Linked DNA regions of Homo sapiens. The protein of the gene in region 2 interacts with the protein of the main gene of each other region in a biochemical or structural test. Each region holds a gene or a part of one and is shown on either strand. Other genes may lie near its edges.

Region 1 (7,026 bases), about 62 Mb from region 2:
TTCTTTAATATTTTAGTTATAAAGGTACCAGATCCTTTGGAAATGCACTTGCCAAAGGGGGGTAGACCTAAGCAAGAATATAAAAAAGATACTGATTCTGATAAGCTAAACTTAGGGTAGCAATTGCCTACAATAAATAAAATGACTTTCATCTGATTGAGATATGAAAATTTCCATTTCTAGTTTTCAGATCCTCCTGGCATAACTGATGTATTTGATGGAGTCAGTAATACATCTGTTAAGAACAATCATTTTCAGCTGATCTTTATAGCTCTCTCAGGTCTAATAAAACAGTACTTGGAGCATTTTTGAAATAAGAATCTAAGACTCAGAAACAGTTTAATATCCCTAATAATTCTGGGGTGATAGGGCTGTGAGGGAATTATGATCAGGAATTATAGTAGTTACTAGACACCCATCTGTAAATGCTATCCCTAATAATTCCCAGACAAGAGTCTGGAATATCCAATTATCCAAAGAAGAGAGATGTTCTTATATTATAACACATTGTTGGGGTCCTTAGACATTCCTCTCCTCTTTGTTTCTTCCAGAATAGCACTTGGATAAGTGTCAGGGTTCAGCATGTGACCTCTCAGACTCTCAGGGTTTGGCTTCTGGTTCAACATTGCTAGCTGTCAACAATGATTAAGTCCCATAGTCTCCCTAAAGCTAAGATTTCTCCTTGTAAAAAGGGAAGGGAAAATTACACTACTACATTACTACCACAGAGTGGTTATGATGATTAAATGGAACAATCCCCACATAGCACTCAGCACAGGACCTGGCAGTTAATAAATGCTCATTAAGTGCTACCTATTATTAGACTTTTATATGTTAACTCTTGAAAGAAAACCTTAAAAACCAACTATCGTAGTCCCTTTTCCTAAGGATGAGATGAATGAGGTCCAGAGAAGCAATAACTTGCCTAAAATCTGGTTGGTAGAAATACTGAGACTAGAACCCTGGTCTCTTTATTTCAGTTCAAAGATCTTTTCCCTGCATTATATTACAAGGCAGGTAGGACAGAGAATATCCTAGTAAGGTCCTGGTTGGTATTTCCCAAAAGCATCAGATCACAACAACAGCTAAGATAAAAAAGAAAATGCAGAAACTGAGACAAAACATAACACCTTAATAGAGAGAAAGAACTGTAGGGCTACAGTTAAGGTGAGGATTTAGAGTTCAATCAGTTTGATCCTCATTTTGTCACTGGCTGTATTTGTGGCCAGAATATCCATTTACTTTGTCCCTATTCTTGGAATATAAAAATAGAAAGAAAAATATTATCAAATGACATTGGGCTGTTGTCAAGAAAAGCCAATAAAAATGATTACTCTAGCAATATAAAAGTGCTCCATAAAAGCTTAATAATCAACAGTATTTAAGAGGTATACCACTGAGTATCTGACAGGGTGCCCATGTTTTATAAACAGCATTTATGGACTTCCACAACCAAAATTTTCATTCTTTGTGAGTTGTGTATAAATTTAGGAAGTGGTTGAAACCACATTTCAAATCAAAGCCGCTCACGAGGCACCCTGCCAAATAAGTGTAAATATCCTTGGAAAATCTCACATCTAACACACAGCTTGGTAGAAGTGGACCTATCTTTTGGAAAGCTGAAAAATAGATGGTTACCTTGGGTCTTAGGGAAAATATTGTTCTGGGAAACATAAATAATTTTTTAAATTCAGAAATATGAGCTGGGTATTTCATTTTCTTATACACAATTATCATTCTAGAAATTCTAAATTTTGCATCTATTCTTTTCGTTAATAATTTGAGTATCAGGACATACATTATATGCAACGTTTTTATAGTAAGCAGCAGACTGCATCTTAGCCCCTGAAGCACTGCCTCATTCATATTTTGTCCAAAGTGCATTGGCATAGGGAAGTGCCCTGTACCTAACTGCAGAATTTAATTGAGATTATGAATATGATTGTTTTCAATGTCATTCCCTGAATTTCATACTACCCCCATACCAAGTAAGAATTCATTAAGGTCAAAAGAGTACATCTTGTTTTTGTTTTGGTTTGGTTTACTTTTTCTGAGACAGGGTCTCACTCTGTCACCCAGGCTGGAGTACAATGGCACACAATAATGGCTCACTGCAGCCTTGACCTCCCGGGCTCAGGTGATCTTCCTGCCTCAACCTCCAGAGTGGCTGGGACCTCAGGCACACACCACCACACTCTGCTAATTATTTATTATTTGTAGAGATGGGGTCTCCTTCTGTTGCCCAGGCTGGTCTCAAACTCCTGGACTCAAGTCCTCCTGCCTCGGTCTCCCAAAGTGCTGGGATTACAGGCATGAGCCACCGCACCTGGACAAAAAATCATATCTTATTCATCTTTGTGACTCCAATACCTAGCACAGAAGAAAGTTAATATAAAGGGAAGGGAAAAAGAAAGGAAGAATAGAAAAGAAGGAGACAGAATGGGAAGGAAGGAGGGAGGAAGGAAGGATAAAAAAGAGGAGGAAGAGAAGCAGGGAGACACTAAGTTAATTTTTCTATTCAGGGAATGGCAATAGGAAACTCCTCCCTCTTTTCTTGATCATTACTGATGGCATCAATTTGCAAGATGTACTGAGACCATGAAAATAAAATGCAGCCAAGATCAACATACAGAACATTTAAAGTCACTCAGAGCTACACTTCCAACTAGCATCAGTCAAAGACCCTGTGGCAGCCACCCAATCAATATCACTGATTGATAGCCCTCTGGATAGGTTACCTTGGTTGTACCACATCACTGAATATGACCACAGCAGAGTCCTCTACTGGGGAAAATCAATAGGCTACCATGGAGAAGAGGAGACGTAAGAGAGAATTCCTTCATTGAGAGCCAATGAGCACAGTGACACTGCTCAGCAGGAGACCCCAAGGATATAATCACTAAAGGGGGCTTCAAAGTTCTCTACTCATGACTGAATGGGGCAGTGTCCCACAGATGTTTTGAACACTCCTCTTCCTCTAAAGGAATCATTGTCAGAGGTGCGCTGAAATGTTTTGGTCCCAGGCACGTAAAAAGCTGGGCAGGCAGCGTGGCAAACTAGGGAGAGGTGGACATACTTGGAGAATTTAAAACAATGACAATAACCAACCAACTTCAAAGATCAAAATACAAATGACATCCCCCCATAACAAACAGGTTGGTAGTAAATAGTAAAAGAAGTAAAATAAATAACATTTATAGTTCCCCCAACATTTCCATAGGTATTAAAGTAATAATCATATCTAAAATTTTTAAGCCTGATATTCACAGAAATTATTTTCTTAGATTTTCTCTTTGTACCTATTTTTCCCCTTAACCCTGTTGCACCCTCTTAGATTGTCTGTCCACGCCCCTCCAGGCAGCTGTAGAATCCTAAAGCAACCCATGGTAGCCACCCATTTCCGAACAGTACAGCCCAGTGGAAGATGCTGCTACTTTAACCCAGGTTAAAATGAAATACAGTGGAAGGCAGAGGAAATGCAGTACAGGGCACCTGGGAATTTGGACCTGATATGATGTGATAGATCTCCTTGTCACCTCTACCTTCTGTGATCCCATGAGATTCATCACAGCGGAGTAATTTGTGCTTGTCACATAAGAGCAGGCAAGGCTACTAGATACCTCAACCCAGAAAGAAACGACAGGCAGCATTTCTGAATCTAACCAAGAGGACAGTACCTACCCAACTCTAAGAAACACTGTAAATTGCCCTTTGTGATTACCTTCAAGTTGAACTTCACCTATTGTTTCAATCACCTTTGAATGCCCATGATAAAGTCTGATTAATTAAGATATTTTTCTGTCAGAATCTGTAACATTTAAGGCAGAGAAGAGTGCTGTTTGCTTTCACTGACCAGACACATTTTTAATCAAATAAATGAATAGAATAAGCAAATATGCAAGAGAAATATATAAATGAGTGAACAAATTATTATCTATAATTTAAATTTCATCAATTTATATTCAATATTTGACATTTGTTGACAACTTACTACATAAAATATTTCATTAATTCATTTGCAGTTAGTTATCATAACCTGAAACATAATAAAACTTAATTTCTTTTAAAATATATTATATATTAGACTTCCTACTGATTCAAAAAATCCTTCTATCAACCCAAATCATAAGCATATACCTAAAATCACATCATTTCTCTGTTTCCCACAACTTTAGAAATCCCAGTTAAAAAATATGGTCTGTGCCATGTCAGATATGTTCTGTATTTAAAAGCATGATTAATTTCTAAGATGTATGAAAATGACACATTAAGTAACTTGTGGATATGCAAAGTGATTTCCAGACATCATACCTGAGGCTCAAACCTTAAATCTAAAGAAAAGTAGTTAAGTTTTGCTTTGCTGAGTAAATTAAAACCCACACCCCACTTTTTATCACATGCCTTACCTTTTCCAGGGAAAAATTCCCATCTTCTAAACCTCAATGTCTGGCCCCTGGGACAGTTGTGTGTTAGAATAAAGATTCAAAATGAAAAGAAGCATACGATTTATCCAGAGCTGGAATATGCCAATAACAATGTTAATTAATATAATCTGGCATCATATTCATAGAATTTTAGGGATACGATGAAAGAAGTAGACCTAAAATATCTAGAATAGTCACCTACCATATTGTAGTATCTGATTTTGGGGAAATGTATATCAAGGTAAAAGTCCAGTCATTACTTTCTCAATCTGATGGTCAGATGCCAAAACATTCCTCAGACCACTCTCATGGAGTAGGTTTTCTCCCAAGGAGCACACGGTGGTTCAGTCCGTATTTGGACCCTTGGATGACAAACATCATTGGTTAAACCGAGGCGCTTCTAAAGGAGTAAACCCAATCTTTTAAATGGACACAGAAGAAACTTTATCTTTGAGGATCTTTGGGGCTGGAAAGTATTTATCGGTCATATTAGACTAGAGAAAGATCATGGAAACTGTTGGCCTCCTTTACCACTGTGGATGTGTTGGGGTGAGGGAAGGATCTAGTCTCCAGGGACGAAACTCTGTTGAATTTATCTTGCTCTGGGAATATTCTATTCCAATTCTGCACAATTGAGCAGTAATAGTGAAAACCCTCCAACTTTCAAGTTACAGCTCCAAAATGAAGAGAATCCAGTACCTTTTTGTAATCATAGGAACCCTCAATTATTTATGCATATTGTAGAAAGTCGTGTCTTCAATAATAAAATGATTATTTATGTTTGACTTCACAACATATTCTGTATTTGGGGTTTTTCTTTTGTTTTTGGCAACATCGACAGACTTATTTTCCTAATTATGTTTGACCCCAATTAATGTTACAATTAACATTCTCTGAGCATACCCACATATACACACACTACTCACCAACCGATGGTGGAGAGAATGCCCAGAAACATAATGTGAGATAGGGAAGGGTGGTCTGAGATTATACTTTTGCTGCCAACAATTCACACACTATATAATCTGGATCAAGAAGAGGATGGCTGTATTTATACCAGGCATTTTCTAGAGCCAAATAATCACATTAGCTAATTCCCATCCATAAAATATATGTAGCCTCAGTAATTACTTATTAAACTAAGTCTATCAGCACACAGAATACTTTTTTAAAGCAGATTTATCTAGTTTGACTGCATATATCAATCCAATTAAGGTAATTGCCAGATCTTTCTAGTACTGGCTGCTACATAGACCTGCCTGAGTCCTCTCTGGTAGTCCTCTCTGGAGATATTTGGGAATGTAACCTTAGCTCTTAGTCCTGCCACTTTGGGAAATTAAGCACAGCTTCCCTTGATTTCTGGAAAACATCTTCTAGACTTTTTCCTCTCCCTCAATGACCCAGGTGGCCTGGTCTTCCGAATAGCAACTCCCTTCCCCATCCACCCATTGCATCTGACCCTCGCGGTTGCTCACCTATGTTCTCTTCAGCTTGGCTGCTCTCCCCAGTCTCCGTTGGAGGCTGGGCTGTTGCCTTGGCAGCAGCATCCTCTGCGGCAGGGGTGGTGGCAGCAGCAGCAGTGACAGCAGCAGGCACATCGGCTTGTTTAGGCTCCTCCTTGGCTGGGGCATCTTCAGCCTTGGAGGACGGCGAGTTATCAGTGGAAGCTTTAGTGGCACTTTCTGTCTCAGCTGAGCCGGCCTTCTCCTCTGAGGATGCAGGAGCCTGGGGGGCTGCCTGCTCTGTGGCAGCATCACCCTCCCCCTTCTTCTCCTCGGAAGGAGTTTCTCCTGCTTTGCCGGGCTCATCAGGCTTGGAGCCAGTGGCTGGGGCTGCTTCGGCAGTAGTGGTGCCTTCTCCCTTCTTCTCCACCCCATCGGCAACAGGGGCTTCATCCTTCTTATTAGCTTCAGCCTCAGCAGCTTGGACATCATCCTTCTTCTCTCCTTTGAGCTTTTTCCTTGTTATGTGTCCACGGAAGCTAGCCTGAATTTTGGTTGCGGCCTTATGAGCTTTATCTTCTGGTTTGATACCATCTTGTTCAATCTTTTGGTCGTCATCATTTTTTTCAACCTTTGTCGAGAAAAGAAGGGAAAAGAGAGGGCTTCAATGACATTCTTCTCCTTTAAATCTCAGCATTCAACAAGTATTTATTAAGTGATTTATTTTGTGCCAGGCACTGTTTTTGGAGTTAAGAATTCAACAGTACCCTGGAAGTTCAAATCAAACCTCATCTTTCTCCCACAGTATTGTATGGGAAAAGTAATGTCTTTCGGACCTTCCAGAATCACTGGCCATTTTTTTTTTTTTTTTTTTTTTTTTTTTTTGAGATAGAGTCTCAGTCTGTCACCCAGGCTGGAGTACAATGGCGTGGTCTCAGCTCACGGCAACCTCCGCCTCCCAGGTTCAAGCAATTCTCCTGCCTTGACCTCCCAAATAGCTGGGATTACAGGCATGTGCCACTACACTCGACTAAGTTTTGTATTTTGTAGAGACGGGGTTTCATCATGTTGTTCAGGCTGGTCTCAAACTCCTGACCTCAGTGATCCGCCCACCTCCACCTCCCAAAGTGCTGGAATTACAGGCGTGAGCCACCGCATCT
Region 2 (7,026 bases):
CTGGGGACCACAGGAGTGGGTGTTGGAACACTTTGAACTAAGACTTTGGGTGTGGACGTTTGTATGTGGGGGGGGCTTGAGGGATGCCACAAAACCTAAAGGTAAAATTTTAGAATCAATCAGAAATGAAGCTAAATAGTCAAATAAAATCTATCGAGTGAGTGGTTGGGAAGGTAGGGTTCCGTTTACAAAACTTCTGTTTGTAATCAGAGCCTTTCAGACCACCAAGGCTTCTCTGGGCTCCTGGAAGAGTGCGTGTGTGTACACGCAGCCCGAGTAGGGGGCCTGGGCTGTGCCCCTGTTGTCTCCTCTTGGTGTTAAGGGTGGAGTTATACCTGGGAGTCTTCCTTCTGGGCTGGGAGTTCTGATAATGGTCTGACCATCTGGCCCCCCACCTCTGCTCCCTCCCCAGAGAGCCTCCCGGAGATCAGACTCAGCCTCCTCAGAGCCTGTTGGGATATATCAGGGTTTCGAGAAGAAGACCGGAGTTGCTGGGGAGGACATGCAAGGTGAAGCTGGGTCCATTGCCCCATTACGGTTTTTATTCCCCCTGAGGCCAAAGAAAGGGGACTGTCCTCCCTTCCATTGTCAAGTGAGACATGGAAGGAACCACCGGTCCTGGGGAGCGAGCCCCTTCCTCTCTGAGGCCCCTTCCCCCAGCCTACCCCAGGCCCCGGGGGAGGGGAGTTGTGTAGACTGAGACCCCGATCTGAGGAGGTGCCATCTCTCGGGCAGACAACAGTGGGACCTACGGCAAGATCTGGGAGGGCAGCAGCAAGTGCAACATCAACAACTTCATCTTCCACAAGGTCCTGGGCAAAGGCAGCTTCGGGAAGGTGAGGGCTGTGAGCCGGGCACCTGCTTCCCACCCCACCCTGGCTTCTTCCCGCTTAGGTGGCTGAGGTGGGAGTCTGTGAATCGGGCTGTGGCCCCTGCCCCGTCCTCACCTGCTCAGCACCCGTGTCTCCCCATCAGGTGCTGCTTGGAGAGCTGAAGGGCAGAGGAGAGTACTTTGCCATCAAGGCCCTCAAGAAGGATGTGGTCCTGATCGACGACGACGTGGAGTGCACCATGGTTGAGAAGCGGGTGCTGACACTTGCCGCAGAGAATCCCTTTCTCACCCACCTCATCTGCACCTTCCAGACCAAGGTGCCCGGGCCTCCTGCCGTCACCACCCCATGCCACAGCCATGTCCCACAGCTCCTCAGCCCCCCTCAGTCAGGGCTGTGTCTCCCCTTCAGGCCACTTAAGGCAGGGCCATGCTTTCCCCCCTCATGCCTCCCAGGGCAGAGTCGTCCACCTCAGCCAGGGCCTGTCCCTGCTGTTTCCTGTTGGGGCTTGGCCCCAGTGGCCCTCAGTGAGGGAGCCTCCTGCCTATTCCTCACCCCTGCTCACCACCCTTCCCACCCCAGGACCACCTGTTCTTTGTGATGGAGTTCCTCAACGGGGGGGACCTGATGTACCACATCCAGGACAAAGGCCGCTTTGAACTCTACCGTGCCACGTACGTAAGGGCCATGGTGGGGAAGGGCCCAGTGTGGAGGAAGGGCTACTGGCTCAGAGCCCACTTCCAGTCTGCCCTCCATGCCTTCTTCCCTCTCCCTAGAAAAGCCAGCCTGGGCTAGAGCGGCAACTGGGGAGATGTGGGGGTAGCCTGGGTCGGCACCACACAGGAAGCCATGGGTGGCAAGTGAACTGCGGCTGGGTGCGCAGCGCAAATACTCTGGGTCCTGGCCGCTCCGTGGGCCACAGCCAGGGCAGCCTTGCAAATGGTGGTCCTGCATGACACAGGACACAGGACCCTGGTGCGTGGCCCCCAGACCTGCTTCTCCCCATTCACATGCCCCTTACCCCAAACTAACCGTGTATGTGTGTGTGTGTGTGTGCATGCATGCAAACACATATGTACATGCATGTAAATGCATACACTCTTAGAGAATTGGCTCACTGAGAGCTTTCCCTTCAGAACTTTCTGCCTGGGCTGCCAGCCCCCACTTGCCTGATACAAGATGTACTTGATCATGCTCAGGTGGTCCATGGAGTTATTTGCAGCATTTCTTGCTCCTGGAAGTGGGGTTGAGGGCCCGAGGAGAAGCAGAGGCTGCTCGGCAGAGATCCCGGAACACTTTATCCCTCTCTCTTGCCCAGGTTTTATGCCGCTGAGATAATGTGTGGACTGCAGTTTCTACACAGCAAGGGCATCATTTACAGGTGCGGGGGTGAGGGCAGCGGGGGCTCTTGGGAGGGGAGGCTCCAGCCCCATCATATCTTCTGAAATGCTCCAAGCAGGATCCCCCCAACTCCAGTTCCTTCTCTGCTGGAAATCAATCTTTAGCTGGGTATTTGCCTATGCCTCCCACCCTGGTGTTAGCATTCCTGTGGCCACCATTTGAGGCTGGCTCAGCTTCAGGAACTAGGAACTCACTGCTCATATTTGACACCATCGCCCCACCCATCCTTGGAGCCGTCAGTCTCGCTCTGAAGCCCCATCGAGTCATCTAAGCTTCTGCCAGAAGGGACTCCTTCCATAAAGTCTCATCTAATAAGTTATGATTCCATCCTATGGTGGGAACTGTACACCCACCAAAAAGGCTGAGGTCAGGCTCTGTATACTGATGTGGGATAATGCCAAGATATGTTGTTAAGTGGAAAAACAACCTGTGGGAAAGTGTATATCGAATATTAGCATTCAGCCTTTAAAACGTGGGAGGGAGACTGAGCGCGATGGCTCACGCCTGTAATCCCAGCACTTTGGGAGGCCAAGGTGGGCAGATCACCCGAGGTCAGGAGTTCGAGACCAGCCTGACCAACATGGTGAAACCCTGTCTCTACTAAAAAATACAAAAGTTAGCTGGGCATGGTGGTGGATGCCTGTAATCTCAGCTACTCAGGAGGCTGAGGCAGGAGAATTGCTTGAACCCGGGAGGCGGAGGTTGCAGTGAGCTGAGATCATGCCACTGCACTCCAGCCTGTGTGACAGAATGAGACTGTGTCTCAAAAAAAAAAAAAAAAAAAAAAAAAAAGGTGGGAGCGAGCTGCATGCTGCCATATGCTTGTCCACGCCTAGAATTGCTCTAAGGAGAGCCTCATGATTGAGCTCAGTGGAAGGTAGACTTTGTACTGTTTGCCATTTCTAGTTCCCATATGCATTAAGTATATACTCAAATGACTAATTACTAAATATAGACATGGTCTCTGCCTGTGGGAAGTAGACAAACCTGAACCTGGGGGTCACTTCTGCTGCTGACTGCTAGGGGACCCTGGGCGAGTGACATCACCTGTTTGAGCCCCATTTGGGCTTCAGGAAGTAGGGCAGTGTATGCCCAGCGTTTAGCACACAGTAGGGGACTTGCAAGAAGCACCTGTTTTTAGGATCTCTTTCTCCTTCTGCTTCCTTTTCTGTTTCTCATTCCCTTGTACCCTTGGGGACAGTCCTGGACTAATACGGCTGAAAATTAGGACATGGGGGGCAGGGTTGGAAGGAGAAGAAATGTCCCCTGCTGACTCTTACCTGTCCCCTGTCCTTAGGGACCTCAAACTGGACAATGTGCTGCTGGACCGGGATGGCCACATCAAGATTGCCGACTTTGGGATGTGCAAAGAGAACATATTCGGGGAGAGCCGGGCCAGCACCTTCTGCGGCACCCCTGACTATATCGCCCCTGAGGTGAGCCGATACCCTTCCAGCCCCCCGCTCAGTCAGGCACCTTGCCTCCCCACGGTGGGCCAGGGAAGGATTCCCAAGGGCAGTGATGTCCAAGCCAAAGCCCATAGGCTGAGGCGGCCTGGCTAGGCTTCGTGCCCAGGGGCCCCTCTCAGCCTCAGCACCTCAGCTCCTGCTGACCTGCTGCTCTCCCCACCGCCAGATCCTACAGGGCCTGAAGTACACATTCTCTGTGGACTGGTGGTCTTTCGGGGTCCTTCTGTACGAGATGCTCATTGGCCAGTCCCCCTTCCATGGTGATGATGAGGATGAACTCTTCGAGTCCATCCGTGTGGACACGCCACATTATCCCCGCTGGATCACCAAGGAGTCCAAGGACATCCTGGAGAAGGTGGAGGCCCTGGGCTGGGCTGGGCTGGTCTGGGCTGGGCTGGGGCAGGGGCTGGCAGACACTGGGCTTTGGGTGAGGAGCTTCCTGTCTCTGGAATGGCAGCCTCAGTGGTGCTGCAGTCCTAACATACGGGGTATTGCTCTCTCACCATGTTCCCAGGAACTCCTGTCTGAGTCCTGTGCATAGAATCAGCCTGACATGGTGACTAAGGGCCCAGGGTCAGGAGACAGACCCGAGGCCAAATGCTGGCTCTGCCTGGGACTAGCTGGTCACTTAACCTCTCAGAGTTTGTCTCCTTATCTGTAAAATGGGGCTATGAGCAGACTTGACTCACAGAGTTGTTGGGAAGAAAATAGAAACATATGATGCTCAGCTGTGGGCCAGGCAGATAGTAAATAATAAAAAGTTCCACCAGCAGAGTCGCAGATGTCCAGCCCAGAGCCTGTCATCTCCGGGGGAGCTGGGAGCACTGCAGGCCAGAGTGGCCTCCCTCAGCCCCACCGTTCCCCAGGCTGACTGGGGCTGGGGCAAGCCTGGCTTTGCATCCCTGGGCCTGCTGGGGATTTGCTGAAGCTCCAATTTCCCATGGCCCTTGGGTGCTAACCAGGGTCCCTGCTGGGTTGCAGCTCTTTGAAAGGGAACCAACCAAGAGGCTGGGAGTGACCGGAAACATCAAAATCCACCCCTTCTTCAAGACCATAAACTGGACTCTGCTGGAAAAGCGGAGGTTGGAGCCACCTTTCAGGCCCAAAGTGGTATGTGATCCTGCCCTGTGCTGCCTTCAGGCTGAGCTACTCCTCTCCTGCCCTCCCTCTCTCCTGCATCATTCACACGCTTTCCACCTCTCCCTTCTTCCAGCAATCTCCATAGCATGTTCAGTCACAGCCGCTGCCCTTGTATTCTCATCCTCTCCCTCCTGACTCAGTCATTCAGCACACACTGGGGACTGTGGATCCCACTGTATGCAGAGGACCCTGTTTTGGGAAATAGAGTTAAGACCTCACTTTATCGCTCCATTCAATCCATTTTCCAATACATATGGGGAATCCTGAGTCCCTGTTGAATGCAGAGCACAGTGCTGGGCTGCACAGCAAAGTGGGAGATGCAGTCCCAGAACCGGAGGAGCTCTCAGCTAGTTGGAGAGATAAGAAACTTGCACACCTATGACAATTTGTGATACGAGATGACAGTATAAGAGATGCCCCAGGACACATGATCCGTTGCTATTGAGTGGGTCTGTCAGCAGGAACCCAGGTGGCAGAGAAGAGGGTGGGTCTGAGAGGCCCCGTTGGAAGAAGTGAGACAAGGGACAGCTGGGAGGCATTCCAGGTGGAAGAGGGGCTGGTTCACTCACAGGCCCAGAATCTACAGGGCTACCAAGGAACCAGCCTGAGAGCAGAGGCAGGTGGGGCCACTAAGAAATTTGGGGCTGTGTGGCCCCTCTGTGACCACAGTTCTTCCTTCCCACTCCCCTTCTGTCCTTTGATTCCCCTCCTCCACCAGGGCACACAGTTCCCACTGGGCAGCCTGTGTAATGCGCCCCACATTTGTGCTTTGAGGCTACAGAGCACTTCCCCTACACCAGGGACCTCAAACTCAGACGTGTCCTGGCTGAGCATGTAACTGACAGGCTAGGCCAGCTGCAAGAAAATCACACAGCCTGCTTTCAGTCTCACTTTTGATAGATTTCCTTCTCCGCACTAAGAAACACAAAGCAGGTGTGATGTACCCCTTGTCAGTGGGGCAGGGGCTGTCCAGGGGGCTCTTAGCACCAAGAGTGGGCAGGAAGTGGGCCCAGGGCTGCTTTAATCTGCCAGTTTTCAAAAGAAGCTGGAAATCTGGATTTTTAGGTTGCATTGCTCAATTTTAAAATATAAGTTCAGGCCGGGCACAGTGGCCCACACCAGCACTTTGGGAGGCTGAGGCAGGCAGATCACCTGAGGTCAGGAGTTCGAGACCAGCCTGGCCAACATGGTGAAACCCCGTCTCTACTACAAAAAATACAAAAAAAATTAGCCGGGTACGGTGGTGCACACCTGTAATCCCAGCTACTCAGGAGGCTGAGGCAGGAGAATCGCTTGAACCCAGGAGGTGGAGGTTGCAGTGAGCCGAGATCGTGCCACTGCACTCCAGCCTGGGCAAGAGAGTGAGACTCCATCTCTAAATGAATAAATAAATAAAAATAAATAAATAAAATATAGGTTCAAATTCCATTAAAACCCAGTACAAGCCGAAATGATTGTACTTGCCAGTTCAGTTTGGCTGAAGGGCCACCAGCTTGCGGTCTTTCTATATTACCATCCCATCATATCCTCAGGAGCAGAGAATCAGCAAATTTCTCCTGTAAACAGCCTGATAGTATATATTTTAGGCTTTTCAGGCTTGATGGTCTCAAAGCAGGCATAGACAGTATGTCAACAAATGGGCATGGTTGTGTATTACAAAAGCTTTATTTATGGAAAGTGAAATTTGAATTTCACCTAATTTTCATGTCATGAAATATTTTTCTTTTGATTTTTTTTCCAACCATTTAAAAATGTGAAAGCCATTCTTAGCTTGTGGTCCCCACAAAAACAGGTGGTAAGTGAGCCTCCCTGGGCTGTGATTCGGTGGTCTCTGAGCAAGAGGCTACCACCTCTCCTAACCCAGGCCCAGAGCTCCCTGGTCACTTTCCTCATCCTCTTGGGGAAATGGCAGCCTCCTTCCCATGGGGCTCCTTTCAGGCTGCTAGGGGAGGCTCTGTCTTCTGTTCTGGGTGAGGACAGCTCTGGCCTGGCCCAGCCCTGCAGGGACTCCAGCCTGGGGTGTCTGGAGGGCCATTCCCTAGGTCCTGTTCGCTCACCCCTGCCCTCTGCTTGTAGAAGTCACCCAGAGACTACAGTAACTTTGACCAGGAGTTCCTGAACGAGAAGGCGCGCCTCTCCTACAGCGACAAGAACCTCATCGACTCCATGGACCAGTCTGCATTCGC

Evidence for each region.
Region 1: of the proteins of PRKCD (region 2) and GAP43, one has a biochemical effect on the other in vitro, tested with the Homo sapiens proteins (one study listed by IntAct).

The regions. Positions count from the first base shown.
Region 1 is NC_000003.12:115,675,484-115,682,509, reverse strand, and holds part of GAP43 (neuromodulin), read right to left. Parts: intron 6,498-7,026; coding exon 5,900-6,497; intron 1-5,899. UniProt on the Homo sapiens protein: This protein is associated with nerve growth. It is a major component of the motile 'growth cones' that form the tips of elongating axons. Plays a role in axonal and dendritic filopodia induction.
Region 2 is NC_000003.12:53,185,192-53,192,217, forward strand, and holds part of PRKCD (protein kinase C delta type), read left to right. Parts: intron 1-412; coding exon 413-509; intron 510-735; coding exon 736-836; intron 837-975; coding exon 976-1,149; intron 1,150-1,412; coding exon 1,413-1,504; intron 1,505-2,148; coding exon 2,149-2,211; intron 2,212-3,528; coding exon 3,529-3,667; intron 3,668-3,866; coding exon 3,867-4,055; intron 4,056-4,681; coding exon 4,682-4,810; intron 4,811-6,916; coding exon 6,917-7,026.